Homo sapiens: one gene and its partners. The protein of the gene in region 1 purifies or fractionates together with the protein of each later gene. This does not show direct contact. Each region holds a gene or a part of one and is shown on either strand. Other genes may lie near its edges. The genes, in order: ZNF638, KCTD3, DCLK1, NAV1, LIMA1, AGAP1 and RASAL2.

Region 1 (4,378 bases):
AATGGAAATAATGGCTCCTGTTGGAAAGTTAAAAATCATAGTATTGTAAACAAATTTTGACCACTGGCTAGATTCCAAATAGTCACAATAAATGTGCATGCAGATCATTTGGGAGAATTTCAGTGCAAATTAGTTTTCCTAAAGGCTAAAATTAAGAGTTGTTTTTTTTAAAGCCCCACAAATGACTTAGCTATAATTCACAAAGTATAATCCAAAAGTAAAATTCTAACAGTATCAACCTAATTCCACTTTTACTTAAATTCAATAAGATTACATTTCCTAAATGAAGAGTTTCGAAGTATGACACATAAAAATACATTTAAAGTATTTGTCAGACAGTACAAAGGATTTACTGTTCCATATGTCAAACATCTAATAAGTGCTCTAGAAGACTTACTGGACTTCTAAAAGCACCTCAAATATAGTTAGAAAGTAAACAGCTAATTAGGCTGTTCCATTTATCAGTATATATTGATTACACATTAACTAATTATATATAGAATACATATTTTAAGAAATACAGGCCGGGCGTGGTGGCTCATGCCTGTAATCCCAGCACTTTGGGAGGCTGATCACCTGAGGTCAGGAGTTCGAGACCAGCCTGGCCAACATGGTGAAACCCCAGCTCTACTAAAAATACAAAAATTAGCTGGGTGTGGTGGCAGATGCCACCCAGCTACTCGGGAGGCTGAGGCAGGAGAAACACTTGAACCTGGGAGGCAGAGGTTGCAGTGAGCCGAGATCACGCCATTGCACTCCAGCCTGGGGGACAGGAGTGAGATTTCGTTGCAAAATAATAATAATAATAAAAGAAATATAATGGTTACATTTTGAGAAAGTTGTATGAAAAAATTATTACTAAGACTCAATGACTAACATAACTGTATTTGAAAACAACAGTATCTGTAATTTTTAAAAATGCCGTCAATAGTAAAGAAGATAAATTCCTACCAGGGCTCCTATACATTTAGTATGTTATTAATGATTAACTGCTATTATATATAATAACGACATTAGAATATGTACCCTGTAATTTCTAGGGAGAATATCTACAAGCGATTGTACTATCAAATTAACAAAGCAAACTGAAGTAGCCACAATCCTTACTTCTGCTTTAGTAGCCATAATCCTTATTTCTGCTTTAGTAGCCATAATCCTTATTTCTGCTTAAAACTAGTAACATTTCTCCTTGCCCCAACAACATAGGCCCAAATCTATCCCCTACCAGGTAAGAAAAGTAAAATGACTGAAAAAAATTCTATGAATGGTAAAAACCTAAAATAACAACCAAATATAAAATATGTTTGACAACAGAACTTGGTACCAGTAAAGTTAATCTTAGAGACCATCCACTTAAGGTTAAATTAGAGCCAAAAGGATAACCTGTTTTAACAAAATGAGGATGACTCAAGTCAAATGTCAGTCTCTTTCACATATATAAATTTTTTTTCTGTGTCTACAACCTATTCCTGTCAATATGAGATTGGAGGTATTGCCCTACTCTACTCTCTTTCTGTCCCCATATAACATTTTGCCCGCTCCCCCCGCCTCAAGAAAACACAAGGTGTTTAGACTAGCTCAAGGTCAAAAAGTAAATTAATGGTAGGATTAGAGATAAGTTAAAAACAAAACATCTCATTCCTATCCCTTGCTCTAAACTCTTAGTCACTAACATTGTTAAGGCAGGCACAAGTTATAAGATAGATGAACTGTGCTATGGAGATGAAAAAGAAGGGTTAGGGTCTGTGATCTATTTTTTACCTCTTTAGATTTGGAACTTCTACCAGTAGTGCTTTTAGGATTCTTAGTGTTTTGCTCAGCCAAAGTCTGAAATAGTAAATAAGAAATACAGAAAAACGGAATTTACAACCATATTATTAATGTTCTGGAAAAAAAAACAAAAAACAAAAAAAAACAGTAAACATTACCCAAATACAGTCAATTATGCAAATTATTTAACATGTATACAAAACTAAGTCAACAGTCACTAAACAGTATAGGCACAGTCTGTACAAGTTGTAGTTAAATTCAGTTTTACTGATCTTTTCGTCCCACAATGTCTAGTTAGGCAATCAGTGACCTGATAAAGGAAGCTTCAATTTAAGAGAGGAAACAGTTTCCCATTCAGAAGCAGAGTGGTAAATCACCTTAGGAGATTCACTGCAGACTTTTTTTTTTTTTTTTTAAACCACAGTTATTTCCAAATTGTATCCAAATAATGCTTTTCAAACATGTCAATAAATTATGAACTTGAGTTTAATACTCTGAATGTCTACTGGCTTAAACAATGGAATCATTTAAGAAAAGGAAATGGGAGCTTCCGGGGTAGAGTGAGGAGATGAAAGTATGAAACAAAATTACATCTCCTACTACATAGCTACAGCAGCGGAGCTAATCACTTCAAAGACACACTGTGCCATTCTTCCTACCCTCCTCACCTTATTGTTGCTGTCATCCCGTTTCATGATGGAAGGTCTAGCCTCTGTTTCCTGAGATTGTTTTGTTATATCTCTGTAATCCAGTTTAGAAAGCTTGCCTTGCAGGGCTGAGATCCTTCCACTGCCTCCTCTGGTAAGACTGCTCTGAGTAGGTTTGAATTTACTGCTGCTTTCTGCCAAGCCTGACCTGGCACTTGTGGGTTTAAGCAGACCAAATTCCTTGGCTGAAAGTTTCTTTTCAGCATTTATTTGATCTCTGGGCACAGATTTTGGAAAACTTTTCTGATTTTCAGTTTTTGAAACTGTAGCTTTTGCCTTAGGAGAAGAGACTATAACAGCCTTGATGCTTGGTTTACTGCTAGATACATCTGATACAGCCAGAATACTAGTTTTACTAGTTTCATCAGGCTTATTAGCCTGACCCACTCCTTTATTTGGGTATGCCTTGAATAAAGTGTTTTCTGCAGGCTTTTCTTTCATTGCTGCCATCTTTTCCACCTTTTCTGCATCCATCCTACCTTCATTCTTTTCAGCCTTCTCTGTTCCTATTTGAAGATCCATTCTGGTTTCCTTAGTATTAAATTCCTTCTCCTCCTTTTCATCCATGTTACCTTTTTTTTCAGAAATATTCTTTTTGTCCACTGTCTTCTCATCCCCAGTGGGAATTCCTGGTACTAACGTCACAATACAAGTTGATGGCAATATTTCCGAAACAGTTTCATTTTTTTCTACTTCAGCTACAGCTTCTACCATAGTCTGTGTAATTCCAGAAATGAAATCTTCTGCTTCAGATGGAGATTCTTCTAGAATTCCTTTGAGGTTCCTTTCTTCTGCAAACACACTGTCAGATGGTAACAATGCTGTTTTAGGGTTAATAATTTCTGCCCCTTTCTTCTCCAAGTCACTGTTAAACATCTGCTGATTTAAAGCACACTCCTCGGCATTTTCAGTGAATTGTTCAATACTGACTGAAGCGGATGCTACAAGAGGAATTTCTTCTTTGACCTCCTCTCCTTGAGTTTCAAGCTCCAAAGTTTCAACAGCAAAGTCAGAATCACATGTTGCTTTTTCAGCTTCTTCCTCACAAGGCTCTTCCTGCTGTACCAAAGTTTCTGTTTGAATGCTGGGAGTACTTTCTTCTTCAAGCTCATTAGGTTTAACAGAGGGACTATCAGTTGCTGTTTGCACCTCACTTTCATCAATTGGACTGTTTTTCAAGCCAGGGCTAAAAGTATTTAAAAACAAACAAAAAGAACACAAACAAAAACACAAACAAAAATCAAACTATGATGAGAATTCAACCATTATAAAGAATCCTGCTGATGCCAATTGTTAAGACTTCCTGATGCATTCGTAATAAGCACTGGGAAATCCAACCAATCAGCATAAAATGGGTAAGATGTATTGCTGGAAATACGTAAATAATATAAATTATGACTGTTGATATGTTCCTTTTGCGCTCATGTGATTACAGCCAATATTTTCCCTCCTCTGTCAAGTTAACCCCTGACATTGAAAGGTCAAATGTGAATCTGAGACACTTCAAATATTATCAGGTCCTATTCCCAACAGTGGTAACTGAAATAATAAAATATGTGTACAGTTCTACAATAAAACTAATGATCCATGCATTATGATTTAAAATTTTATAAGTGAACCTTACCTAAAAAGAACATAAACAGAAACTGGTGGGGGGAAAAGACCATACTCTAAATCATATCACCTTTTTATTTTTTTTTTGGATGTAAAATATTTTTTTAATTACCCAAGAACCATATTTATTAATGATAATACTTAGAACATTATTTGGAAAGTATTCTTTATATACTCTATTGAGGATTTAAAGCTAGTGACAAAACCTGATATAATCACCTTATGTGAACATACAGTCTTATAAATATTTGCCTTTGGCTATAAGAAGAAATGCATTAAAAAATAAA
Region 2 (4,378 bases), on another chromosome or scaffold:
TCACAGCTAATTTGGTAAATGTTTCTGATAGCCTTTATCTGTTGTAAACATTTAGCAGACAAGTGTGAATTGTCATGTAACTGAGATATCCTGATGTATTATTTATTGCTTATACCTAGCTTCTGAGACTGTAGTATATAATGATGTTAGACAGGATTATTAATGTGAGCTCCCTGATGGTCTATCTCTAATGATTCAGTGTTTTGTATTCTATAGCAAGGGAGAGTACATTGGTCATAAATACCACATTTTGGGAAGTGAGGTAGTAAAGCAGGACAGTTATTGCACAAGTGGTATAGTTTAATATCTAATATGTGAAACTTACAAAGAAGTAGTTTGGTTTTACTAATGCTTACATTCTCAGAGCCTGAGAAGCAATGAAGAATAGTGTAGACCGGTGATTTTTTTTTTTTTAATTGGGAAAGTGATAGGACTCTTAGTTCAAAATCACTGTACTCATTGAGAAATGTTGATGACAGAGAATGGTGTAGAAGCACAAAAGTGGTTGGAATATACTAGCTTAGATTATTATTTCATTTAATTGCAGAAAAATCAAAGATACATAAACTATTTGTTTATCACTGTTGAGTTCGGTTAAGAAAAATAGTCACAATAAGCTGAAAAATATCTAAAATGTCTTCTAAAGTTTACAGATATAGTTTAAAGAATCCCAGATGTATTTTTTTTTTAAAAATCTGAATTTATGAAAGGTTTGGCATGTCTGGTAAGTGCTGTTTATATCAGTAATCTCAGGTTTATATTTTCCTTGTAGTAATGATTAAGTGCAGACTTTTATGTTTTAAGAGTGTTTTGGCTGGGCACGGTGGGTCACGCCTGTAATCCCAGCACTTTGGGAGGCCGAGATGGGTGGAGTTCAAGATCAGCCCGACCAACATGGTGAAACCCCATCTCTACTGAAGATACAAAAATTAGCCAGGTGTGGTGATGCATGCCTGTAATCCCAGCTACTCGGGAGGCTGAGGCAGGAGAATCACTTGAACCCAGGAGGTGGGGGTTGCAGTGAGCTGATAGCTCACCATTGTACTCCAACCTGCGCAACAGAGCAAGACTCTGTCTCAATAAATAAATAAACAAATTTTTAAAAAAAGTGTTTTGTGGATTTGTAATTTTAATTATGAAATAGCATGGAAATTGTTTTTTGCATAATTTCTTTGGGGATGGTTTTGTATGAGGCAAGACTAATTTGGTAAAGTAATTTTTTTTTAGGAAGCATTGTTTTGAATTTATCATCTTATATATTTGAATTGAGGTGACTTGTAGACCCTTGTTTACATATTATGTACATATTTTTGTCAATAAGGAATTCCAGAAGAATTGTGAAATGATAAGTGATCCAAGTGTAACAGCATAACTTCCGTTTTGTTACTGTACACAATACTAAAGATTGCTCTTTTCCAGAACCACCACATTATTACGCAAAATTTAACTCACTGGGTAATAATTGTATGGAGGATGATGCTATTACATTTTCCAGTCTTTGCGTTTGCATTGATCACGATCTTTCTGTGCTTTCACCAAGTGTCTGACATTTCAGAGCAATATACTCATGTAAAGTGACGAAGGAAGACAATTGAGGACATATTTGGATTTCCTCACATATAGTTAAATCATTCAACACAATGGCAATAAAAAGATTTCAAAAGAAAGAAAAATATTTAAACTGTTTAAAAGTGTAATCTTTTTTACAAGTTATTTTTCCTCAAGTTTTTGTATCAGTAAGTTACAAAACCTTTAAAAAAAGAGTAGTACAGTGAAGACCTGTATGATGTTCTCCTAGCTTCACTAATTTTCTACATGGTTAGGTTTTATGTTTATGTCCCTTTTTCTTGCTGAGTTTATGACAGTGTTACTTCTATTAACGAAGAGTAGTTGTGTGAATTGCTGCCCCCTTGGGGCTTATATTCCACTTTAGATCTTTAATCCTTGTGGAGTTTACTTTTTTGTATGTGGTATGAGATTTAAGGATTTATTTTCTTCTCAGTGGGTAGGTAATTATGTTCTGACAATTTATTACGTAAATCATTCTTTGTCAGTGAATCTGATAGCCCATTTTATCTTGCTTTATGTGTGTGTATATACTTGGATCTGTTTTTCAGTTCTCTCATTTCCTTAAGACATATGTCTATTCTCATACAACTTGAGGTGAAGTATGTTCATAATAAGTTTCAAAATCTCACAGGGCATGTCCTCTCTACTGTATTTTATTGAGGTCTTCATGTAGGAAATAACTAGACGTAACTCTATTCTTCGCATAGCTGTCTTAACCAGAGGGTTGGTTCACTAGGCAGCAGTAAGATGATGGAGAGGTGAAATAACAGAGCATATTCTTGTTTTATATTTTGTTTTATTTATTATTATATATTTTTTGTTTTGTTTTGTTTTTGAGATTTTGAGACAGAGTCTTGCACTGTCACCCAGGCTAGAGTGCAGTGGCGTGATCTCGGGTCACTGCAACACCTGCCTCCTGGGTTCAAGCAATTCTCCCACCTCAGCCTCCTGAGTAGCTGGGACTACAGGTGTGCACCACCACACCTGGCCAATTTTTGTATTTTTAGTAGAGACGGGGTTTCACCATGTTGGCCAGACTGTTTTCAAACTCCTGATCTCAAGTGATTCACCCGCCTCAGCCTTCCAAAGTGCTGGGATTCCAGGCGTGAGCCACTGTGCCTGGCCTTGTTCTACATATTTTAAATGTATTACTTGTATGGAAAGTTATAGAGCAAATATGTACCTTCTTTGTAATTTTTTAAAAAACAGGTAAATTCACATATCTTATTAAGAGTTAAATTCTGTAGTTGTTATAGTTATTTTTAAATATGCTGTCCTGATTCTTTTATCCTTTTTTGACATCTCTTTATTGTGTAATACCCTAATTACTATAGAGAAAAACAACTTAGAAGTAATATGTCTGTAAAAGATGAGATTATATAGTTTTTTTTTTTAAGTGAATCCAAGTTTATTAAGAAAGTAAAGGAATAAAAGAATGGCTACTCCATAGCCAGAGCAGCCCTGAGGGCTGCTTGACTGAGTATACTTACAGTTATTTCTTGATTATATACTAAATAAGGGGTGGATTATTCATGAGTGTTTCAGAAAGGAGCAGGCAATTCCCAGAACTGAATGTTCCTCCCCTTTTTAGACCATATAGGGTAACTTCCAGACATTAGATGTCATTTGTAAACTATCATGGGGCTGGTGAGAGTGTCTTTTAGCATGATAATGCATTATAATTAGCGTATAATGAGCAGTGAGGACGACCAGAGGTCACTTTTGTTGCCATCTTGGTTTCAGTTTTGGCTGGCTTCTTTACTCCGTCCTGTTTTGTCAGCGGGATCTTTGTGACCTTTACCTTGTGCTGACCTTCCTTGTTACGCTGTGACTAAGAATGCCTAACCTCCTGGGAATGCAGCCCAGCAGGTCTCAGCCTTATTTTACTCAGTCCCCATTCAACTCTGGTTTGAACACCTCTGACATGTTTTCCCCTTCCCTTTTACAAGGGTACTCTTAATCCTAAGGGTTTCAGAGGGAGGAAGATTCATCTTCTGTAACTTCTGCAGTCTGAATAGGGATGATGGTATTTCTGCCTATTAGGGTCTTCTGCATTCAGAGTAGAGGAGAGCTCAGTTAGAAACTGTCAGTATGGTGAGAACTCTGATTTCTGACAAAAAGTGATGACTGAAAAATTAATAAGTGTTCGATTTAAGAAAGCACTGAGTAAGCTTATCTTGCATTCCTACACAAAGAGAACAACAGCAGTATATTCTACAATAACAAGGCAAAATAAGTAAAATTATCCCAAGTAAACTAAATAAGAAGGCTTTTCATGAACTGGGAAATTGTTGTAACCAAGCTGATATGGAGTTGGAACCAAGCTGATGTGCTAGCCAATTCCAATACATGCCCACAATTAGAATACTGATCCAGATTTCTGTGTTACCCATGCCTCTTGTTTCTTCTGAACAGCAGCCACAGATCACTGCTTGGTCCACAAGGATAAGCAGGATGAGTCCAAATTGCAGAAAGAACTCAAAAACTACTGATGAGACAAATCTAATAAAAAGCATACCATAGTTTTTGAAACAATTTTCCTATTTTCAGTCTTTCATTTTTACTAAAGAAATCATGGTAGGACTGATTTGTTTGCAAAATAAGCTTTAGTCTTATTATACTTGGCCTGATTATTTGTATAAAGTGCAGCAAGAATAATTAGTTCCTATATAGGCTCTTTTTAAATTGACTTTGATAGAACTTTGATCCATAAAGAATCTCAAATGAGACTTCTTAAAGCCTTGAGCCTTGCCATGGGTTTATCATTGCCTGCAAATACCTGTATGAGTTGGGTAAGTTTCTTTCCTTT
Region 3 (4,378 bases), on another chromosome or scaffold:
TTATCTAACATCAAAATCAATGAAACCAGTTCAGAGCTGCCTATATATAACTGTTTTTGAAAAATGCAAATTCTGACTACTATGAGTTATTAAGAGGCAAGAAATAGTTTTCATATTTGGAGGGAAAAAAGTACACTGAACTCATTAACACTCCAGGTTTAAATCACACTTCATTTCTCCCTCCCCAGACCTTCAGTGGGGTCAGCAATAGACCCATAAGCAGGTAGATAGAATCACCAACATCAGAGGCCTGCTGACCACTGCTTCCTCTGTGTGCAGACGAGGTCTGGATCAGTTATGTGGCCTGTCCAAGGTCACTGAGCTAGTTAGGAGTGAGGGCTTACAAAATCCTGCTTCTCATGCTGAAGAGGAACCAGTTTCAAAGGAGCAAGGGATGGAAAACACCAGCTTTGGAGTTACAGTAAATCTGGGTTCAAATCTCAACCCCTCAGTTATAATTTTGGGACCCTGGATAAATTCCATATTCACCTGAATATTAATAATATTACCTACCTTGTTGGATTAATATGAGGTTTAGAAGAGAATTTTTAGCATATTATACAACTGGTTGATGAGTAATAGTGTCAGGTACCTCCTAGACCTTCAGTAAATATTGCTTTCTTTCACTTCATTTCTGGAGTACCAAATCTCTAGTCATGCTTTCAGGTGTGAAATTTTAGCCACTCTGAATGGATCAGAGGTCAGTTTACTGAGGGCCAAAGAAAGGTTGGGGAGACAGTGGTGCATTGGTGAGTGTTCACTGACCTTCAGAAAGGTGATGTCCATCTAATATGGTGGGACTTGGGGAGTGCTTGTAAGGTTCTTGCTCCAAATTTTCCATTTTCCTGATATTCTATTTCAACATGCCTGAAATTTTGTCATTAAAGTGTCTTTCCTTTGAATGCTTTGGTCTTTCCACTTTCTAGATTGTCTTGTTAAACCACAGATTCCCCTGCAAGGCTCCACAAACCTTTATCAACCAACCCCTCAGCAAGGATGAACTGGTCCTCCAGTCAGCTTGCTGTGGGGACCAGGGGGTACAGATGTACCTTTCAAAAGGTCATGAGATGGAGATCAGGAAGAAAGCAGGGGCCTCTCTTGCCAGAAAGGAAAGATTCTATTCCTGCTAGCTCTTTATGTGTCAGGGCCAGGAACACAAAAACAGATTTTATTAATAAAAAAATTAGTACTTATCACATGTCAGACACTATGATAAGAACTTCATGTGCATGAATTTATTTAATAGTTAATACTGACTGTGAGGTAGGTACTGTTCTCATTCCCATTTTGTGGTTGAGGAAATCAAGGCTTAAAGATGCTGAGCAAGTAGATTTTTCAAGCTTACACAGCTAGCATGGGGTCAAGTGTAAATCGACATCTTTAAGCCTCAATTTCTTCAATCACAAAGATAGTCTTAATGAAAGGAAGAACCAAGAAATGTACTTCCAAACATTTTTTCCTTTCTTGTTGTTCCTCTTCCTTCTCCTCCTTCTCTTCCTTTTTCTTCTTTTTTTAAACTCAACTTTTCTGAAGTACTAAATATAAGTAAATGAAGTATAGTGAATTTGCTTTTAAAAATATTGAATGTGTGAATATGTTGGAAAATCTTCTTTAAGTTGGTCCAACCTACAGATTGATTTAATTTGCTCTCCATCTGGCCATGGGGCACACAAACATTATGTAAAACTTTTACAATCTGACTGTTATGCTGCCTGCCCTCTCTTTCTGTCCCAGCCCACCATAGCTACTTCTCTTTCACTGTATGATGATATGAGAGCTTATTTTCTTCCTGCTACCAGGATTAGCCCTCTGCCCTGCAAGGAGCAGTGGGCTTTGGAGTCAGGGAAACCTGGAACAGAGTTGCTGGTACAAGCATTTCTCAACTGTATTACTTGGAGCAATTTAGGGGAAATTTTTCTGTGCCTCAGTTTCTTCTTTTGTAAGGAAGGACAATACTTTGGAAAGTTGTTGTGTCTATTGGGAATAATATCTGTTTGAAGCCTGATGAACCATGGGCAACCTAGGAGCTGCTTCTAACAAATTTGTGGCTGATTAATAAGCTGTTTCCACTGGGATCGGCCTCTTCTGCTGACAGCGTGCAGAGGAGCCTGTGTTTATTTTGTGGGAATTCACATCCCTTTCTCTTTCTGTCCCACTTGATAACTCATATTAAATGTGTCATCAGTTAAAGCAATATTTCCACCCAGCTGTTCTGAAGCAGACCCTTTGAAATCATGATCTCAAAATAACATCATCCCCAAACTTTGGGAGGCCAAAGGGGTTGGGGGGCGGGGGAGGATCACTTGAGGCCAGGGATTCAAGACCAGCCAGGACAATAAAACAAGACCCTCATCACTACTACTAAAAACAAGCAAATGAACAAAAAATGAAGGAAATTAACCAGGCGTGGTGCAGGCACCTGTAACCTGTAGTAGTCCCGGATACTCTGGGAGATTGATGCAGGAGGATCATTTGAGCCCAGGAGTGTGAGGCTTCAGTGAGTACTTCAGTGAGTGCCATCTCACTGCAGCCCGGTGACAGAGCAGGACCCTGTCCCTAACATAAAAAAAACAAAAACAAAAAAATATATATATATATATAACCTACATCAATATGTGTGTCTGCTTTTGTTTCTGGGGCTCGTAGGTCCTACTTGAAGTCCATCATGTCCTTCGGCAGAGACATGGAGCTGGAGCACTTCGACGAGCGGGATAAGGCGCAGAGATACAGCCGAGGGTCGCGGGTGAACGGCCTGCCGAGCCCGACGCACAGCGCCCACTGCAGCTTCTACCGCACCCGCACGCTGCAGACGCTCAGCTCCGAGAAGAAGGCCAAGAAAGTTCGTTTCTATCGAAACGGAGATCGATACTTCAAAGGGATTGTGTATGCCATCTCCCCAGACCGGTTCCGATCTTTTGAGGCCCTGCTGGCTGATTTGACCCGAACTCTGTCGGATAACGTGAATTTGCCCCAGGGAGTGAGAACAATCTACACCATTGATGGGCTCAAGAAGATTTCCAGCCTGGACCAACTGGTGGAAGGTGAGCGCTGTGAGATAACCCCCACGTGACCCTACAGGTTCCAGGCTCAGATTTCCAGTGTTGTAGCCGATTCGCATTTGCCCTCTGACAGTTGACATTCAGCCTTATGGCTGTGATCCTTATAGTTTCAGACATACGAATGTGCTATTGTGTAGAGTAAAAAGGAAAAAAAATTAATGGTATTGTCAGGTAGCTTATAATAATGTGCTAAGGGAAAAAGTCCCTAATTCTACAGCATTCTCTATTTTCTTTCTCATACCCATGCTGCATTAATTTTAAAAGTCCATTTTATCTCTTCAATCTCATAGTTTATATTCGTTTCTAAATGCAAATTAAACTTTTGCTATCACGATATCCGAAAGTACTTGAATTGAAAATGACAAATGGATCATGAAATTTTAGAGTTGAAAGGAACCTTAGATAGCTATCAAACCCATTAATTTTATCTTTGGAGTCTAAGGACCAGAAAATTCAAATGACATGTCGGTGGTTACGTGGTAAGATAGTGATGACCCTGGACCAAAACAGGTTTTCTGACAGCTCGTTCCACTGCGATGCTTCCTTTTGAGTTTAAAGGATTATTGTCTTTCTCTGATTTTTGAGGATATGCAGGGACTAATCTGTTCAGTTTAATTTTTTAAGTCCAATTTAGGTTAATAGTCATTATCTGTTTTAGACATTTAATGTGGAAATAGGACTGTTTGCGTCCACGGATGCAGCCTGGTATCTTATGCAAGCAGAGAAGGTCACCGACTCTGGGCTACACTTGCCTCAGGACTGACCCTGTTTGAACAGGGCATAAAGCCTGTCATTGCCTTAGAAATCATCGCCAATTAAAATGAGTTGGAGAAAAAAGACTGGGATTAAATGTATACCAAGGTGCAAAAAAAGCTAGCAGATCCTTTTTGGAGGGTTGATTTTTCTGAAATTGAGATCTCAAGGCCCTGATGATGAAGAAGTAGATGGCACAAAAGAATCTGGGAAAGGGAGGTTGGATGGAGTGTTGGAAGAGCTTGATTTCACCTTGAGTTCATTTTTACTCCAGAACTATTTGCTCAGGCCGTGTAACTCAACTGGGTCCAGGAGGGATGCCATATAATCCCTCCCTCTCTTGTGCAGGTAGCAGGAAGCACCCGTTGCAGCCCCGTTGGAGTTGGGGGCTGCTCTCCCCTGACCGCACACTGACAGAGCCCTCTTGTCCTGCTTTGTAACCAGTGTATGTATGTGATTCAAGGCTGGGGACTTCTCCCTTTTTGCTTCCCTTCATCCCTTGGCAGAAATGCCAGCCTGATCACAGTGTGACTGGCCTTGAGAGCGTGCAGAGGAGCCTGTGTTTA
Region 4 (4,378 bases), on another chromosome or scaffold:
GGTGGCCTCTGAGGCCCACAGTGAGCCAGGTTCTAGACTGAGCGGTTATTGTTCTGCTGCAGAAGGTGGGATTGGATCACTGAGCTGTATACCATGTGACCTCTGGGACCTTCTCTCTGTCCCCATCAGGGGCACAATTCCCCCTATGAGCAAGAGAACACCCAGGAAGTTCCCATAGCCTACAACATCAGCAAGCTAGAAGATTCTGTTCTTTCTCTTGGTCCTAATTTCCTTTCTTTCTTTCTTTCTTTTGAGATGGAGTCTCACTCTGTTGCCAGGCTGGAGTGCAGTGGCTCGATCTCAGCTCACTGCAACCTCTGCCTCCACGGTCCTAATTTCTAGGCAACTCTTCTGTCCGTATTCTATGAATCAAGTGAAGTGTTATAGAGGGTGGCTTAATTAAAGTAAATCCCCCGCCTCCAGCTCTCTCTGTCTCAGAAGTCTCAATCCAGTCCTCCCCCATCCCAGTAGTGGAGTCCTAATGTCCCTCTACCTGGATCTGCTTTTTTCTAGCTTCGAAGTTCCTTCAACAAAGCGTTCAGTATAAAAAAGGGGCCCAAGTCAGCTTCCTCATACTCGGATATAGAGGAGATTGCTACACCCGACTCTTCAGCCCCCTCATCCCCCAAACTACAGCATGGTTCTACAGAGACTGCTTCACCCTCCATCAAGTCCTCCACCTCGTCCTCCGTGGGCACTGATGTCACCGAGTAAGTGCTCTTTGGCTCCCTGCCACCCAGCCTGTTACCAGTGTAAGCTGTGGGCTAGAGTTGACAGGAGGCCATTAGACCTTAGACAAGCAGTACTTATTACTGACCTCTCCCTGGGCATATGAGACCAACAGATGGACCTTTCTTCTCATGCTGATTGAATATCAATGGGCAGGAGAAGCCAAGACCACCAACCATGCCTCTCAATATTCTCTAGTAACTCTAGTGCTTCTTCATGTAGCCTGGCTTGACTCTTGCTATCTTACAGGGGCCCTGCTCACCCAGCCCCCCACACTAGGCTGTTCCATGCAAATGAGGAGGAGGAGCCAGAGAAGAAGGAGGTATCGGAGCTGCGCTCTGAGCTATGGGAGAAGGAAATGAAGCTTACAGACATCCGCTTGGAGGCCCTCAACTCTGCCCACCAACTGGATCAGCTTCGGGAGACCATGCACAACATGCAGGTCAGTGTCTGGGCGGACAGCTGCAGGAAAGGGAAGACCAAGGCTTGCTGTCTGTCCAGTCTGCCACCCTACCCTGTCTGTTCTTGCCACAGTTGGAGGTGGACCTGCTGAAAGCAGAGAATGACCGACTGAAGGTAGCCCCAGGCCCCTCATCAGGCTCCACTCCAGGGCAGGTCCCTGGATCATCTGCATTATCTTCCCCACGCCGCTCCCTAGGCCTGGCACTCACCCATTCCTTCGGCCCCAGTCTTGCAGACACAGGTACCTGTGTGGGAGAAGAATCTATAAGGGTGAAGGGAAGAAAAGGGCTTATTTCACTGTTACACCATTCCACTTGCTTTGGTCAGGGCGGTAACAATGCCGAAGCCAAGCAGATGCCAGTGTCCTAAGACACTGAGTTGTAATGGTCCTTCAACCTTAACTACTTTTGAGTTTGGGACCTCCATTCCTTCTCTGTGGCAAACAGAGTTATTTTGGAAAGGATAATGATGGGAAAGTTTAGGAAAGGCTGCGGGTACTCCTAAAACCAGTTGGTTCTTTTCAATCCCCACAGACCTGTCACCCATGGATGGCATCAGTACTTGTGGTCCAAAGGAGGAAGTGACCCTCCGGGTGGTGGTGAGGATGCCCCCGCAGCACATCATCAAAGGGGTAAGGAACTTCAGGGAGAGCCACAGTGGGAATGAACAAATACTGTTACATTTATCCAAGAAAATCTGGACCCTGGGTACCTCCAAAACCAAAGAACTCAACTCCTAAGGCCTTTAGGACCCCGGTTCATGGAGTCATCTGCAGTGAAGCTCAAGAGCTTTTCCTTCCTTGGCCTTACAGGACTTGAAGCAGCAGGAATTCTTCCTGGGCTGTAGCAAGGTCAGTGGAAAAGTTGACTGGAAGATGCTGGATGAAGCTGTTTTCCAAGTGTTCAAGGTAAAGGGATACCTGTACTCAAAAAGGTTGTTCATCCTCTCGTGGAATATATATACTTTTTTAGAGACAGGGTCTCACTCTTGCCACCCAGGCTGGAGGGCAGTGGCGTGATCACAGCTCACTGCAGCCTTGAACTCTTGGGCTTAAGTAATTCTCCTGTCGCAGCCTCCTGAGTAGCTGGGATTACAAGCATGTGCCACCATGCATGGCTTCTCACAGGATATTAAACCGTCCAGGCACTGGGATCCTGGGGACCTTTGAGGCTTTATGGAGAAATGCTACCTAGGAAAAGCATATGCTCTGCACTTTCTCCATCTATTTCTGTTTCCTCTGATAGACATTCTTTGTTGTGGCTTTTACACCTGTGTTTGTATATTTTCTTCTTCTTCTGCCTGTCTTTTCTGTCAGGACTATATTTCTAAAATGGACCCAGCCTCTACCCTGGGACTAAGCACTGAGTCCATCCATGGCTACAGCATCAGCCACGTGAAACGAGTGTTGGATGCAGAGCCCCCCGAGATGCCTCCTTGCCGTCGAGGTGTCAATAACATATCAGTCTCCCTCAAAGGTCAGTCTTTGTCTCTTGGGGTGAGGTGGTGTGGCATGAAGGCAGGGACAGGATCATCAAATAATCCATCATGCATTCATTCACCAAGAACTCACTGAGAAGGTATAATATGAAGATGCTTAAGTAATGTGAGATATAAAAAGATGAGTAAGACCCAGTCCTAACTTTGGCTCCCAGGGACACTTTTGCTAAGCCTTGGCTTCTTGCTTCACTCCTCACCCCCAGCTCACAGCATGTCCCTAAAAAGAAGATCTAAGTTTTCAAAACTAGGGGTTAAGGGACTCTTATGGAACCATGGGGCAAGTGGCTCTGAGTTTCTTCAGGGGGCTCCTAGATAAAGAAAGAAAAGCCCTTTAGGATCCCTTGCTATCCTCAAGACCCTGGTCAATACTCATGCTTTCTGGGGTGGGGGTTCAGGTCTGAAGGAGAAATGCGTCGACAGCCTGGTGTTCGAGACGCTGATCCCCAAGCCGATGATGCAGCACTACATAAGCCTCCTGCTGAAGCACCGGCGCCTCGTCCTCTCGGGCCCCAGCGGCACGGGCAAGACCTACCTGACCAATCGCTTGGCCGAGTACCTGGTGGAGCGCTCTGGCCGTGAGGTCACAGAGGGCATCGTCAGCACCTTCAACATGCACCAGCAGTCTTGCAAGGTGGCTGCCCCCCGACACCCCTGCCAGCCTTTGTTCATGCCTCAGCCTTCCCTAAGACCCTTCCTCGGCCCCTTCCTGCCTCATTGTTCCCTTTTCCTCACCTCTGCCTTCATCTTTCTTCTCTTCTGTGTTCATTTCCTTCCCTCTCTATCTATCCCCTTTTCCAGTCTTCTCCTTTCCCTCCCCACGATTTCTTTCCAGCCTCTTGCCTTTAACTTGTTTCTCCACACTTTCCCTTGCCTTTATGGAGAAAGGCTTTCCTCTCCACACTTTTCCTTGCTTTGTGCACCTTCCTCCTCAGTTGGTCATTGATGAAACTGCATTCTCCTCATTTCTACCCCACTGTCTGCCAACCCTGTCAATCCCATCCCTTCTCTTTTGTTCTCTTCCTTCTACTTTTCTTTTCAGTATTACTCTCTGACCTTGGGCTATCTGGGAAGAAGCACTCAGAATTAAATGGTACATATTACACCCTCCCCTGCCAAAACCTGATGATGTCTCTTGAGTACCCTAATACAATGGAGTTGGTTCAGATCTTTGCTCTTCCCAGCTCGGGGAGGCATGCCCATTAGTAGTAGTCCATGGTACCAGTGAAAATCCATCTAGGAAATAGCATATGTTCCCCAACTTTGGGGAATTTAGGGGCTGCTGCTTAAGAGGGTTGCTTTAGAGCCTTTGCAACCACTGCTTATCACTCTGTGGTAATCTGCTGTAATCAAATTTGCAAGGAACTAAAGGCCCCAGGGGAATCTAGATCTAGTAAGACTTCTTCAAAATCCTGATTTCCAAGGCCGATCCAGCTGCTTATTCCCAAGTGCTGACCCACAGCCTTCTTTTATTCCAGGATCTGCAACTGTATCTTTCCAACCTAGCCAACCAGATAGACCGGGAAACAGGAATTGGGGATGTGCCCCTGGTGATTCTATTGGATGACCTGAGTGAAGCAGGCTCCATCAGTGAGTTGGTCAATGGGGCCCTCACCTGCAAGTATCATAAATGGTAAGTAAGCTGGGATCAAGACAAAATTCATCGAAGTGGGAGGAGGGAGAACCCAGTCCA
Region 5 (4,378 bases), on another chromosome or scaffold:
AATTGAATTTTAATGATTAGCTTCTAAAAGCTACATTTAATTCGGGACTGTAGAAAATAGTTATTGAGAGGCATTTGCTGGGTAGTGGTCTTTCAGTTGGCAGGGGAAAGATCATCACTGTCTTTGGGCCTCAATTTCTTCATCTCAAAAACAGGTATTGATTCACACAGGATGCTTATGAGGACTAAATGAAAGGATAAAAGCAAAAGTACTTTGAAAACTGTCAGCTACTCTACAAAGCATTATTTTAAATAAAACTTCAAGCCAGCATTAAGAAAAAAAATGGAATTAAAAAAGACTAACCAATGAAAAGAAATAGAAATTAGAACTAATTCATTATAATGTCTGGTTCAACTAGATGTTAATAAGAAACCTTTTGTTTAAAGCTGTTGCTGAAAATCTTTCTAATCAGTACACTGTCTAAACAGTGTGTCTAAACAGTAACACATTTCAGAGCATGTGTTAATAGTAAGTATAATGAAAATCATTTCATTTTTTCTTGAAGATTCTAGATAGCTTTCTAATTTTTCTCCTAGAGAATGAAAACAGAAGAAAACTTCTGGTTGTTTGTGGATTCCAGTAATTGGGTTTTAGTTTTGCCACACTGGCTTTTGAAAATGTAATAGGAGTTGATAGACTAGTATAATCCAGAGTAACAATCTGGGAAGTAGATGGCTATAGTGGTAGGAAAATAGTGGCCTGGATCCTGGAAACACCTTAGAAAACTTGCACTCAGATGGAACTTAATCCTGGTTGTCACAGTATCCAAACTTTTGTCCTGCTACCTTCCGAACTCCTCAGAGACTGCTACCTGATTTGAACCCAGATGGACCGACCTCAGCTGTTGTCCAGTTAAAAAAAATACAACACTTTGGATTGCAAAACAAAACAAGACTTGTCCAAATGAAAAGTCCATCTTCAAGGCTTATTCATTCATTCAACAAATATTTATTTAGCATTTACCAAGTCTTTGGCAGTATTCCAAGTGCTGAAGATATAATGTTAAAAATGACAGACAAGGCCGAGCGCGATGGCTCACGCCTGTAATCCCAGCACTTTGAGAGGCCAAGGCAGGCGGATAATGAGGTCGAGAGATGCAGACCATCCTGGCCAACATGGTGAAATCCTGTCGCTACCAAAAATAAAAAATTTAGCTGGGTGTGGTGGCAGGTGCCTGGAGTCCCAGCTACTTGGGAGGCTGAAGCAGGAGACTCTTGAACCTGGGAGTTGGAGGTTGCAGTGAGTCAAGATCGTGCCATTCCACTCCACCCTGGGTGACAGAGTGAGGCTCCATCTCAAAAAAAAAAAAGACAGACATGGTCTCTACTCTCATGAAATTTCCATTCCACTGGAGAAGCCGGACAATTAAAGACTGTGATTAGTGGTGTGAAGGAAATACAAAAAGAGTAACTGGAGTTGTGGTAGGAACAGGGACACGAACAGCTTCTTTAGGCAGTGATCAGGGAAGGCCTCATTGAGTGAATGACATTTGAACTGAAACCTGAATGATGGGGAGAACATATGCAGCCAGCAAGGTGAAGACAATAGATGGGGGAGTTTTCCAGGTAGAGGAAAGCAAATGCAAAGGCCCTGAGGAAGGAATAATACAGCTAGGAAGTAAGTGAGAAGCATGCGATGACACAGAGATGAGTAGTAGTCAGATTAAATACGGATTAATAACAATGCTAAAGGATTTTAATTTTATTCTATGTGTGATACAAAGCCAAACATTATTATATAAAAGTGTGTTTGCAAGATCAGATATATTTCATGTACTAAATGAGTACTTTGGCCAGGTGCGGTGGCTCATGCCTATAATCCCAGCACTTTGGGAAGCTGAGGTGGGCAGATCACTTGAGGCCAGGAGTTCTAGACCAGCCTGGCCAACATGGTGAAACCCTGTCTCTACTAATAATACAAAAAAAAAACAAAATTAGCCAGGCGTGGTGGCGCGTGCCTGTAGTCCCAGCTACTCCGGAGGTCTGAGGCATGAGAATCACCTGAACCCAGGAGGTGGGGGTTGCAGTGAGCTGAGATTGCGCCATTGCACTCCAACCTGGGACAGAATGAAACTGTGTCTCAAAATAATAAAATAAAATGAGTTCTTAATTGTTTATATGTGCATAATGGCCACAAAATGAAAAGGAAGGGAAAGGTTCTCATACCTAAAAGGCTTGTAATCTTACAAGGAAGCAATAATTTATAAATAGTGACAACATTAAGTAAGGTAAGAAATGAAGCAAAAATCAAGTGTTAAGTATAAAGACTGGGGAGGCAGCCACTGATTCAAGTAGAAGAAATTAGAAAAGGCTTTTTTTTATTAAAAAAATTTAAAAAGGTAGCATTTGATTTGGGCTCTTAAGGAAAAGGATTTCAACAAGAGGGTGGGGAAGGGGAGGAGCATGAGGCTGTGGTAACTGCATGAGCAAAGGCACAGAGGCAGGAAAGAACTGGGCAGGTCCAGGAAACAGAGAATTATTGTAGGGTCACAGTGCCAGGTGGGTGGGTCGTGTTGTGGGAGATAAGCCTAAAAGAATAGGCTGTCAGAGTGGGGGTGTGGGTGTCTTGAAGAGCATGTCAGAAAGCTAGACTGAATTTACTTAGGCATTGTCTCCCCTTAAGTTTGTATATAAATCTCTTGAGGTACTTGATAAACTTCAGGTTCCCAGGCCCATCCCTCAGACACACTGATCTGCAGGTCTAGGTGGGACCTGAGACTCTACCTTTTTAACCACTGCCAGGTAATTCTAACACAGGCAATTAAAGGAACCATATTTTGAAAATCAGTGCTTTTTTTTTTTATGACAACTCTGATAACTTTTCTGCAAGGGAAAAACTGAAGCCAACTCTAAGGATTACTCAAGGACTCAAGGACTCTGGCAAAAAACTAAAAGGGGAATCTGAATTAGAAGACTGATTAAAGAACTCTTATCACCCCTGGGGCAGAATCAGCCAAACTTGGGGATTGATCAAATGTGGGTGGAGAAAAGTATTAAAGTGGTAAGTACAACCTCAAGCTTTCTCCTTAGTGAATCTGGGTGTACGCAGATGCATGGCGTACAGGGACTATCCACATAGCCTAACAGGTAGCTGGAAATACAGATCTGGAACTCAGATATACAAAGGCATTAAACATATTGGTTTGGTACTTCAAAGTAAGTTCAATACAAATTAAAGAATTAAATATAAAGTGTAAAACGGTAAAAATCAGAAGGAAATGAAAGTGAGTATTTAACCAATCTCTGGATGGTGAAGGCCTTCTAAACATCACAGCACCAGAAGAAATCTCAAATTTAAAAATCCAGGCTGGGTGTGGTGGCTCACGCCTGTAATTGTAACACTTTGGAAGGCCGAGGCGGGCAGATTACCTGGGTCAGGAGTTCAAGACCAGCCTGGCCAATATGGAGAAACCCTGTCTCTACTAAAAATACAAAAATTAGCTAGGCGTGGTGGCATGTGCCTGTAATCCCAGCTACTTGGGAGGCTGAGGCATGAGAATCACTTGAACCCTGGAGGAGGAGGCTAGAGTGAGCCGAGATTGTGCCACTGCACTCCAGCCTGGGTGACTGAGTGACACACTGTCTCAAAAAAAAAAAAATCTATAGATAAGTAATAATATACTATATACAAAATTAAAAGGCAAACTGGTTAAATATTTGACCACAGGACAAAAAATTAATATTCTTAGAAGAGTTTATACCAATCTCAAAGAAAAACACTAAGAATGGTTCTGTATGAAGTAGAAGAAGTTGTTAAATAACTTGCCTTGGAGACGTACACCCTCTAGTCACAAAATGAGACATTTTTCACATACATTGTAGATAATCGAGTTTTGTGGCACAGGTCAGCAGGGCTTCTGTGATTTTATCTTACCAGTTTCCAAGTGTCAGTCTATGGGAGTGCCTAAAAAAATACCAATCTTTTTGACTTCTTTTTTTTTCTTTTCTTCCCCCAACCCCCACAGCAAGAACCCCATTCAATTTTTTTTTTATACTTCTATTTTCCTGAAAGTTAAAGGGCACAAACAAATTAAGCTGTCCCCAGGCTCCCCTTGCTACTCCGGTGGACACTGCCTTTACTGCATCCAGTCTTTCCTCAGGCTCTATATATCTAAAATTAGGTGAAAGGTTAGAGATGAGACAGAAAGTAATTCCAGAATGTCTAGTGAACAGTAGTAGCTCCAAAGGCATCCTTTCAGCACAGAGGTTGTCCAGTCTTGGGGATCAAAAGCCCAACCCTCTCATTTTACAGATGAGGCTCTGAGTCAATGAATCAATGACTTGTCCAAGATCACCTGATTGGTTGATGACAACATTAAGTTGGGAATCCTGACTCTCAAATAGCACCCTTTCCATTCTGCAGTACTGCTTCATTGATC
Region 6 (4,378 bases), about 160 Mb from region 1:
TGAAGCTGAGCTCTGGGGCTCAAGCACTTCCAGCAAAGCAGTTTGACTTTCTAGCAAGAGGATGTGGTTGCATTTTCCTTTCTCCCTTAAAAGAAAAAAAAAATGCGTCGTTCCTAGATGATGGTTTTTTTTGACAGCACGATGCCTACCTTTGCGATTTGAGATTTTAGGCCCCTTCTTGGCCGGGATCCTTGTCATTTTTAATAAGGCTTAGAATCATTGGGTGAATCCTGTTTGGGACTGGGGTGATGCTGTTATTTTTCTCTTAGAAATAGGGATGTCTACATTATGTGGAGCTGTAGTTAATTTAGTGAGGCTTAAGAACCACTCAGACATGCTGCTGTTCTTTGCATGTTCTTCTGTTATCAATAATGATACCACTTTTCATTTCTGTAGAACTTTAACAGAAATATTTTTGCATGTATAGTCTCATTGTGTGGCTTCACCAACCCTGTGAGGGTGGGTGGGTAGCTTCCTCATCCTCATTTTATGGAGGAGCGGGTGGAGGTTCAGGGAGGGATAATGACCTCCTTAACATTTGACTGAGGTGGTTTGAAGTCTGATCTGAACCAAGGGATCATTTGAATGGAGTTTCTGTCTCCACACTGCATGTGGATGGCAGGAACCCAGTGCTGGCAACTAAGCCTGCGCTGGAACATCACAGTAACTGCAGAGGGCTCCCTGCAGGGGCAGAGAGCTGCCCCTGCCTGTGCGTGCACCTTGGAGGTTTTAAAGTCTAACTGTTTCCAATCAGGACAGCAGGTGCACATCATAACAAATGGCTCAAAAAGTCACTTGTCCCACCAAATAGAAAGCTGGCCACATTTTAGAAGATTTCCAGCTAGGGATTTTTTCCCCTTCCTCTGTATGTGCATACACAGAATTGGGGTCTGACTTCCCAAGCTTCTGGACTACCGTGATGTGGGCACTTCTTTTTTTGTTTTGAGACGGAGTCTCGCTCTGTCGCCCAGGCTGGAGTGCAGCGGCGCAATCTCGGCTCACTGCAGGCTCCGCCCCGGGTTCACGCCATTCTCCTGCCTCAGCCTCCCGAGTAGCTGGGACTACAGGCGCCCACCACCTCGCCTGGCTAATTTTTTCTGTTTTTTTAGTAGAGACGGGGTTTCATTGTGTTAGCCGGTATGGTCTCCGTCTCCTAACCTCGTGATCCACCCACCTTGGCCTCCCAAAGTGCTGGGATTACAGGTGTGAGCCACCGTGCCCGGCCGGGCACTTCTTAACGTTATGAAGAGCTTTTGAAGATAGGGTTTCTCTTGTTGGCACAAAATTCCCACATTTGGCTGCACCCTACTCAAAACTTCACTGTTTTCTGGCATCTTCAGGAATTTTTGCTGTTGGAGTGAGGTGCAGCCTTGTCCAGGGGAAGGATGTTTTGGCTAATGCTTATTTCAGAGCGCGTGGAGGTGGGTCTGGGTTGTAAAATCTCTTAACGATGGACTAAACATATTTTAGTTGAAAGGCCCACCAAGGCTCCCAAATAAAAACACATCCGTAATCCTGTTTGTAGGCATGGGATACAGGTGATTTTGCCCTCAGTCTTGTTTTAAAACACTAGCTTGTCAGAAGAGAACAGTTTTTTTCCCCCAATTTTTGTTTTGTACATTGAGAGGTTTATTCCCCCCTCCCTTCACCCCCAAATCACTAGAGTTTAAGGAAGCATTGCTGATTGTTCCAGATTTATCTGATCAGGTTTCTGGGATGTCCTATGGGGCATGGCATGCTGTGAAATGTAGCCACACAGCTGTGTCGTCTCTGGAGCCTCCGCAGCCACCATGCCCAGAAATGAGCCTGAGAGCCATCTCGCCTCCAGTCTGAACAGCGTGTGTTAGTTTCCCCTCTGGTTCTCCTTAGAAAAGTCCATCGGGGGTTGATGGCATTGAGGTAGATGAATTAACTGCCTTTCTTGTTCAATAAAGCTTGTTCTTCTTTCAAGGATAAAGCCTCTCTTAGCAGTCACACATCGTAATTCAGCTTGCCAGCAGCAGGACCGTGATGTGAGTGATAGCCCAGCCAGCTCATTCAGCCAGGCGGCCCGATTCCCAGGTTCCCACGCATCGCCGGGAAGGTTGGCCTTCCTCTGAGGTTGAGCCCTCATCCAGCCCACAAGCCTCCATCCCCACCAGGTGGCCGATGAGAGGAAACCCAGGCTCTCCACTGGCCTGGCACTTGGCAGGAGAACCCTGCCCTGCACTTCTTAAGGGCATTTCCACAGGGAGATTCCAGGACCCCTTAGTAGTATCTCAGCCCCAGTGTTTGGGGGACCTGGGAAGATGGGTCAGGGTTCCCCACTTTGTCCCATGATACAGCTGCTCTGTTGAGCATGTGTGTCCCACAGAGTGCGGAGTGTCTGAGGTGCATCATCTCAGTTCGTCCTGCAGCGATCTTGTACACAGACGCACTGCTGAGGCCAGAAAGCTTAGGACACTTGTGCGAGAGCGGTGAGCTGGGCCCGTCCGACCTCACCTCTGGCCCTCTGTCGCCGTGTGAGATTGCGGAGCCCCTGTTATTCATACTTCCCATAGGCCGTGTGTGCAAAGCATCCCAAGCTTGTTTCCGCCACCCAAGGCAAGAGGGTTTGAGAAGGCCCCAAAGAACCTAAAGTATTCTGTTCTCTGTAAAGCAGCTGACTGTGGCAAAACTTCCAGAAGCATTTGTTTTCATGTGGAAATGTATTTAGTCCGGTTGATGCAGGTGTGCATGTTTAGGGAAACAAACATTTTCTTCCTGCTGTGGATAAGTGTCATGTTTCTTTGTCACCATTGGCCATGTTCATAATCCTTCAAGTTGAATGAAAGGTGGCAGGTTTGCAGTCCCCTCCTTAAAAATAACACTCAGTTGGCTTTTAGTTGCTTCCAGGTGAGCTCTCGTACCTTGCCGGCACCCGGGACCTCCACAATGCGGGCGTTCCTTGTGAGTCCAGCTTACTCATGCTTCTCAGTTGTGGTGCAGGTGCTCTTTGAGATGCCGCCTTCTCTGCCTGTTGCTCACCCTGCGAGGCTCGGTCTCTGTTGGTGTCACTCATGACCAGCCTTGCCTCGCCAGAATTAAGGCCCTCCTGGTCTCTGCCCACCGTGTTTGGCTCATCTACTTAATCAGCTGGGAGGTCTGGAAGCTGGTTGAGGGCAGAAATCAGGGCTTGTTTATTGCTGTATCCTCAGTGGTTTGATAGATCACGTCTGGCCCTTGAAGGATGCCCAGGGGTTTGTTGGCTGGCTGACTTGCCAGAGGGTCCTTTCCAAAGCTCCTTCTTGGTAGGATAAACAATGTTTATACGCTGCAGAAGTGAGGACAATTTGAAACGTCCCCAGAGCACAGAAGTTAGGGTTAGACACCTTTTGGATTTGGTGGGCTGGCTTGGTGGGAACTCAGTGTCATGTGGTGTTTGGGATGGAAGTGAAATTTTCTTTACTGTAGGTAGGGGAAGCAAAAGATTTGCTTGCTAAATCTTGGCAGCTTTTTCAGATCAGCTGTCTACAACAGGTTGGTGTTTATGTTGGGTGTAAGTGAATTTCAGACATAGAATCAATATTAAGAGGACAAATGGGTGACAGCCTGTGTCACTGCCATGATATAGTATCTTTGGCGTCACACCGAGAGCAAACGTGAGTGTGTGTCAGGTCACATTGAGGGCTGATGGAAACAGATTGCCGGCCCCTCCCATACCTCCCGAGTTTCTAGTTCTGTGGGTTTGGAGCAGGACGCACGAATGTGCCTCTCTAAGAAGTGTCCTGAGGATGCGGATGCCCTGGTCCAGGGACCGCACTTCTGGAAGCATAGCTGTAAAGGAAAGGCAGCTCCAGTTGACTTGGTATCATCTCTGGGCCGTTGTTTCTTCTTCCTTGCTGTGCTTGTAGCCAGCTGAGAAGGTTTCCTATCAGCCTGCCCTGCAGGTTTCAGGTGAAGACACCTAAGGCCAGCTGCTCAGGGAGTTGCTTGTGGTCACGCAGGCTAAGTGTGGTGGACGAGGGACTTAAACCAGATCTGAATGGTTTCAAGCTGGTGTTCATGTGATCTTCATGATGCTGTTTGAAAAGCAGCTGAATGCTGGGTGAGGGGCCTGTCGTGCCAGACCCCTTTAAATTTCATTAGGGATGGCACCGGGTTCAAGAGACTGGAGAGGAGACCTAGAGCCAGCAAACAAAAGACAGAGGGTTTATTAGGGGAATTTATTTACAGAGTGGTCCCATGGCGGCCTGGGCAGGAGAAGCGCTGCTGCTTGCTTTCAGAAAGCGTGCAGTTTATATAGCATTTTCGCTTAACACCCTCCCCCAAACAACCACCACCCAGCAACCTTAACACCAATCAAAGAGCCTCAATACCCTGTATGGCCTGCTTTCCATGGGACAGGCTGGGGGTTTAG
Region 7 (4,378 bases), on another chromosome or scaffold:
TTTATGTAAAAAGATTTTAATACATTGAAAGTAGCAACACAGCAGTAGAACTTAAAATTATGAGCCATATTTCACATACTAGAGGCAGGAATTACTTTCCAGGAAGGTTTCACCAATTTCGCACTAAATCTCAGGCCTTTAAAAACATTTCATACTCTTCTAGGAATTCAGCATAAGAAAACATTCAGAAGTTTGGATCAAAGATTTGTGCACAAAGACAAATCAGTAAAGTGTTAAACTTTTTGAAAAATGTTAACATCTAAAATAGAATAATGGTTAAATAATGTTAGTCATTAAAAATTGTATTTTCATATTATAAAGTCTCAACAATAAAGCTGTGTGATACTGGCACATGAATATAAACAGACCAATAGAACAGAATAGAAAATCTTGAAATAACCCAAAATATAAATGGCAATCTTGTATAGAATAAAGAAGTCTTCTTAAATCAGTGCGAAAAAGCTGGTTTCTTCAACAAATGATGGTAGGACAACTGGAAAGCCATCTTTCAAAAAATGAAATTGGATCCATATCTCATATTTAATACCAGACTGGATTAAAGATTTGAATGTAAAAAATAAAACCAACGAAGTACTAGATAAACCAAGAGAGAATTATTTCATAACCTCAGAACAGGAAAGCCCACTCTTTTTTTTGTCCCCCAAGGGTATTTAGGTACTTAGTGTATGTAGAGGGGGAAAAAAAAAGAATGGGCTTTCCTATTCTGAGGTTACAAAATAAAGGTCCAGAGAACTCCCAGGAAAGCCCATTCTAACATAAAATACATTCTGACATAAAACCAAAAAGCCATAAAAGAAAAATCCGATACATTCAATTGTGTAAGAATCATTTCTTCATAAGGGTGGGGGGAATACCATAAGAAAAATGAAAATACTGGCAACTGTTGCAGATAAAGGGTTCTTTACTTAAATACTAAGAGTTCCTTAGTATGCTTTGCTTAATATACTAATAGTTCCTACAAATCACTAAGAAAAAGATCCAAGAACCCAATAAAAATGGGCAAAAGGTATGTACAGTTCACAGAAAAGGTTATATTTAAATGACTCTTAAAAATGAAAAGATGTTCAATCACACTTAATGTAAAAGATATTAAAAAAAATTAAATTAAGACACCATTTTTACCTTTCAGATTGTCTGATCCAAAATTTCGTGATAATTCATTATGTGTGGGGAGACAGGCACTCTCATATATTGCGGGCGAAGTACAGACAGGTAGGGCAATTTGGCAATATCTTTCAAAATTACAAATACACGTACCTTTGACCTAGCAATTCTATGTATTTTTCTTACAGATATGCTCATACACAAGCAAAATGGCTTATACTCAAGATCATTCACTGCAAAATCACTTGAACTAGCAAAACTTGGGGAATAATTAAATGAGTTATGATTAATTCAGGCATTATGCAGCCATAAAAAGAATGAGGTACCTCTTTACAAAATGAAAGGAAAATATATCTGAGATACATTAATAAGTGAGGGGCGGGGGGAAGAAAGAAGAAGCAATCTCAAAGTGCAGATAAAAATCAGTTCTAATGGGTTATCATACGTGTAAAAATAGAGAAAAATGCATATATACAGTAAAAACCTATGATATCATTTCAGATATAAAGCAATTTACCGGCTCCAGACCCCCAGAACTCATGGCCAACTTCATTTGCAGGTTTGTTCTGGTCATTTCACTAACCTCACAGAAATATAACCCTGAATTTTTTGTAAACTAGATTTCTTGGATCCCACTTATGGCAGGATTTTTACATATCTATCTATCTCTACATTTGCTTCTATGCACGTGGAATAGGTATGGAAAGATACATAACAATTTCAAGTATTTATTGATTGGGAAGAGGGACCATGCCTGCCAGATGGCAAGTTGTAGAGGCAGGGAGGAAGAGTAAGAGAGAGCTCATGGAATATCTTTTTATACTCTGAATTTTGGAACAAAGGAATATATTACCTATTTTTTAAAATAAATAACATATTTAAAAAAATGTGTTAATGTTTTCAATAACATGAGAAAATACACTTAAGAGAAAAAAAGTAGAATGTAAAATATATGCAGTTTGATACCAAATATGTATTAATACAAAAAAATCTGTACACAAAAAAGACTGGAATAAAACACAATAAAATATTAAAAGAATAATTATCTCAGCCAGGTGTGGTAGCACACTCCTGTAGTCCCAGTTATTCGGGAGGCTGAGGTGGAAGGATCCCCTGAACCCAGGCAATGGATAATATGTAAGCTATGATTGCGCCACTGCACTCCAACCTGGGCATGAGCTATGATTGCGCCACTGCACTCCAACCTTGGCAACAGAATGAGACCCCGTCTCTAAAATATAATATTTAAAAAAAAATGATAGTTATCTCTAAGAGGTAGAATTACAAATGATTTTAATTTTGGCTTTTCCTAAAATTCTAATTCTTTATGTTAAGCACAAATTATATTCATAATCAGAAAAAGGGTATTAATTTTTAATGACAGGAATCAGAGGTTAGAAATTCAAGTGGAAGGTACAAAGTTATTAGGTATTATTCAGGGTTCTAAGCATCATATATGAAATTCAAATTTCCTTCAGACATCACTTCCAATCACAGCACCAAAAAAAGTATGCATAATAAGCTTAGGAAAAATATGAAAAAAAAAATCTCATCTGTCCTCTGGTCTATCTCTTAAGGATTACTATGAAATTATTTTCATCCTCCTACTTTATGGATGTTTTGTCCATTTTTGTTTTCTGTTACCTAGGTAATGGTATTTCCAGCATTTCCCTTAAAAGACTGTGAAACTAACAATCTGGTATTTCTCACTGTCGAGTTTTCCTGACCTTCAGCTTTGAGAGGCCATCTCCCTAAGGGAAGGCAGCAAGATCTAGAAGCTAAATCAGGAGGCTAAGGAATCTGAGGTTAAGAGTTCCAATCCTGACAAACTGTGGAGTCTGTCTCCAATTTTGGGAATAAGCTAAACTTCCTGAGCCAGTTTCTTCAATGAGAAAACCTAAAGGATTGCTTTGAAAAATATCAAAAACTATTGACTTTAAGGTTTCATTTTAACTTTTCAGACTACTCTTCCGAATTTTGTTATCTTATCTATGTTGAATGTTTTCCCCTCACTAAATTTTCACTCTCTCAATCAATATCTATAAGTATTACCAATCCCTTAGACTCAGGGATGGAGGTAAGGGGTACTTTTAGAAAGTCTGCTACAAGTGACACAATGTGAATGGAACTCGAGCAATGTTGAAGATAATTTATGGAGGGGTAAAAATACAATCAGGATCTAAACTGAACCCTTATGAGCAAAGCCAACAAAGACAATTAATTGATGTTACTAACACCTGGTAAGGGAAGGTAAAATTCAGACAGCTCATATCTGAACCCAGCTGTAGAGATTAGGAAAGTGATAACTTCTGTATCATAGTCTAGCAAATGAAATGTTTTTATGCCTTTAAGGGTTCAATTTTTATTTCTTTTGTTTACTGTATACTCACTAACACCACTGCACTGGGCCTCAAGACTTCTCTTTTCCCTTCTACTTGTGAACCACATTACTTCTTGATGGGCTGCCCTCTCACTATAAAATAAACTACATGAAATTTGCAAAAGGGTTTTCTACATGCTAGCCTTAAGAAGTACTTGACAGCCTTTGGGAAGAAAGGTGTTTTTACAAACATCAGACAGCAATTATCCCTCTACCAAGATAGGGTGAAGCAATTTTAGCAGTGCCCTTAGCACACTTCAAACTCCTCCTCCTGGTTAACAAGACCAAACAACTCTCTAGTTAGTTAAAAGTTTTTCCAATAGGGAGGGACAAGGGAGCAAACAGCTGAAGTTTTTCTGAATTAACTGTCATTAGTTGAATGCTTTTTTGTGGTTCACCTACTTAAAAGGTGATCAAATCACTTTGTGCTACTGAAGAAAGCAACTGCAAAGAACAATTACATAAACCCTCTATTTCAACTTACCTCATCCTTCCTTCTAATGAAACAAAGGATCCGAAACCACTACCTTGCCACCATTTCCTTAATAATCTTGGTAAAGCCTACTATGTCATGTGAATCTCTTTTCTTTTTCTTAGCAAACCACAGAAATTTCACTCACTATAGTAGGAAACACAACTGTACAACTTTTTTTTTTTTTTTTTATTTGAGACTGAGTCTCGCTCTGTTGCCCAGGCTGGAGTGCAGTGGCACGATCTCAGCTAGCTGCAACCTCTCCCTCCTGGGCTCAAGCGATTCTCGTGCCTCAGCATCCCGAGTAGCTGGGATTACAGATGTGCCACCATGCCCTGCTAATTTTTTTTTTTTTTTGTATTTATAGTAGAGACAAGGTTTCACCATGTTGGCCAGGCTGG

The links.
Region 2: the proteins of ZNF638 (region 1) and KCTD3 purify together in Homo sapiens (affinity purification with mass spectrometry, with the first as the bait; one large-scale study listed by BioGRID). This does not show direct contact.
Region 3: the proteins of ZNF638 (region 1) and DCLK1 purify together in Homo sapiens (affinity purification with mass spectrometry, with the first as the bait; one large-scale study listed by BioGRID). This does not show direct contact.
Region 4: the proteins of ZNF638 (region 1) and NAV1 purify together in Homo sapiens (affinity purification with mass spectrometry, with the first as the bait; one large-scale study listed by BioGRID). This does not show direct contact.
Region 5: the proteins of ZNF638 (region 1) and LIMA1 purify together in Homo sapiens (affinity purification with mass spectrometry, with the first as the bait; one large-scale study listed by BioGRID). This does not show direct contact.
Region 6: the proteins of ZNF638 (region 1) and AGAP1 purify together in Homo sapiens (affinity purification with mass spectrometry, with the first as the bait; one large-scale study listed by BioGRID). This does not show direct contact.
Region 7: the proteins of ZNF638 (region 1) and RASAL2 purify together in Homo sapiens (affinity purification with mass spectrometry, with the first as the bait; one large-scale study listed by BioGRID). This does not show direct contact.

The regions. Positions count from the first base shown.
Region 1 is NC_000002.12:71,422,099-71,426,476, reverse strand, and holds part of ZNF638 (zinc finger protein 638), read right to left. Parts: intron 3,664-4,378; coding exon 2,439-3,663; intron 1,828-2,438; coding exon 1,762-1,827; intron 18-1,761; coding exon 1-17.
Region 2 is NC_000001.11:215,580,168-215,584,545, forward strand, and holds part of KCTD3 (BTB/POZ domain-containing protein KCTD3), read left to right. Parts: intron 1-4,378. UniProt on the Homo sapiens protein: Accessory subunit of potassium/sodium hyperpolarization-activated cyclic nucleotide-gated channel 3 (HCN3) up-regulating its cell-surface expression and current density without affecting its voltage dependence and kinetics.
Region 3 is NC_000013.11:36,124,425-36,128,802, reverse strand, and holds part of DCLK1 (serine/threonine-protein kinase DCLK1), read left to right. Parts: intron 1-2,646; 5' UTR 2,647-2,665; coding exon 2,666-3,041; intron 3,042-4,378.
Region 4 is NC_000001.11:201,807,440-201,811,817, forward strand, and holds part of NAV1 (neuron navigator 1), read left to right. Parts: intron 1-513; coding exon 514-710; intron 711-978; coding exon 979-1,171; exon of another isoform or gene 1,172-1,263; coding exon 1,264-1,432; intron 1,433-1,724; coding exon 1,725-1,822; intron 1,823-2,002; coding exon 2,003-2,098; intron 2,099-2,506; coding exon 2,507-2,666; intron 2,667-3,083; coding exon 3,084-3,319; intron 3,320-4,163; coding exon 4,164-4,318; intron 4,319-4,378. UniProt on the Homo sapiens protein: May be involved in neuronal migration.
Region 5 is NC_000012.12:50,273,285-50,277,662, forward strand, and holds part of LIMA1 (LIM domain and actin-binding protein 1), read right to left. Parts: intron 1-4,378. UniProt on the Homo sapiens protein: Actin-binding protein involved in actin cytoskeleton regulation and dynamics. Increases the number and size of actin stress fibers and inhibits membrane ruffling. Inhibits actin filament depolymerization.
Region 6 is NC_000002.12:235,496,671-235,501,048, forward strand, and holds part of AGAP1 (arf-GAP with GTPase, ANK repeat and PH domain-containing protein 1), read left to right. Parts: intron 1-4,378. UniProt on the Homo sapiens protein: GTPase-activating protein for ARF1 and, to a lesser extent, ARF5. Directly and specifically regulates the adapter protein 3 (AP-3)-dependent trafficking of proteins in the endosomal-lysosomal system.
Region 7 is NC_000001.11:178,100,318-178,104,695, reverse strand, and holds part of RASAL2 (ras GTPase-activating protein nGAP), read right to left. Parts: intron 1-4,378. UniProt on the Homo sapiens protein: Inhibitory regulator of the Ras-cyclic AMP pathway.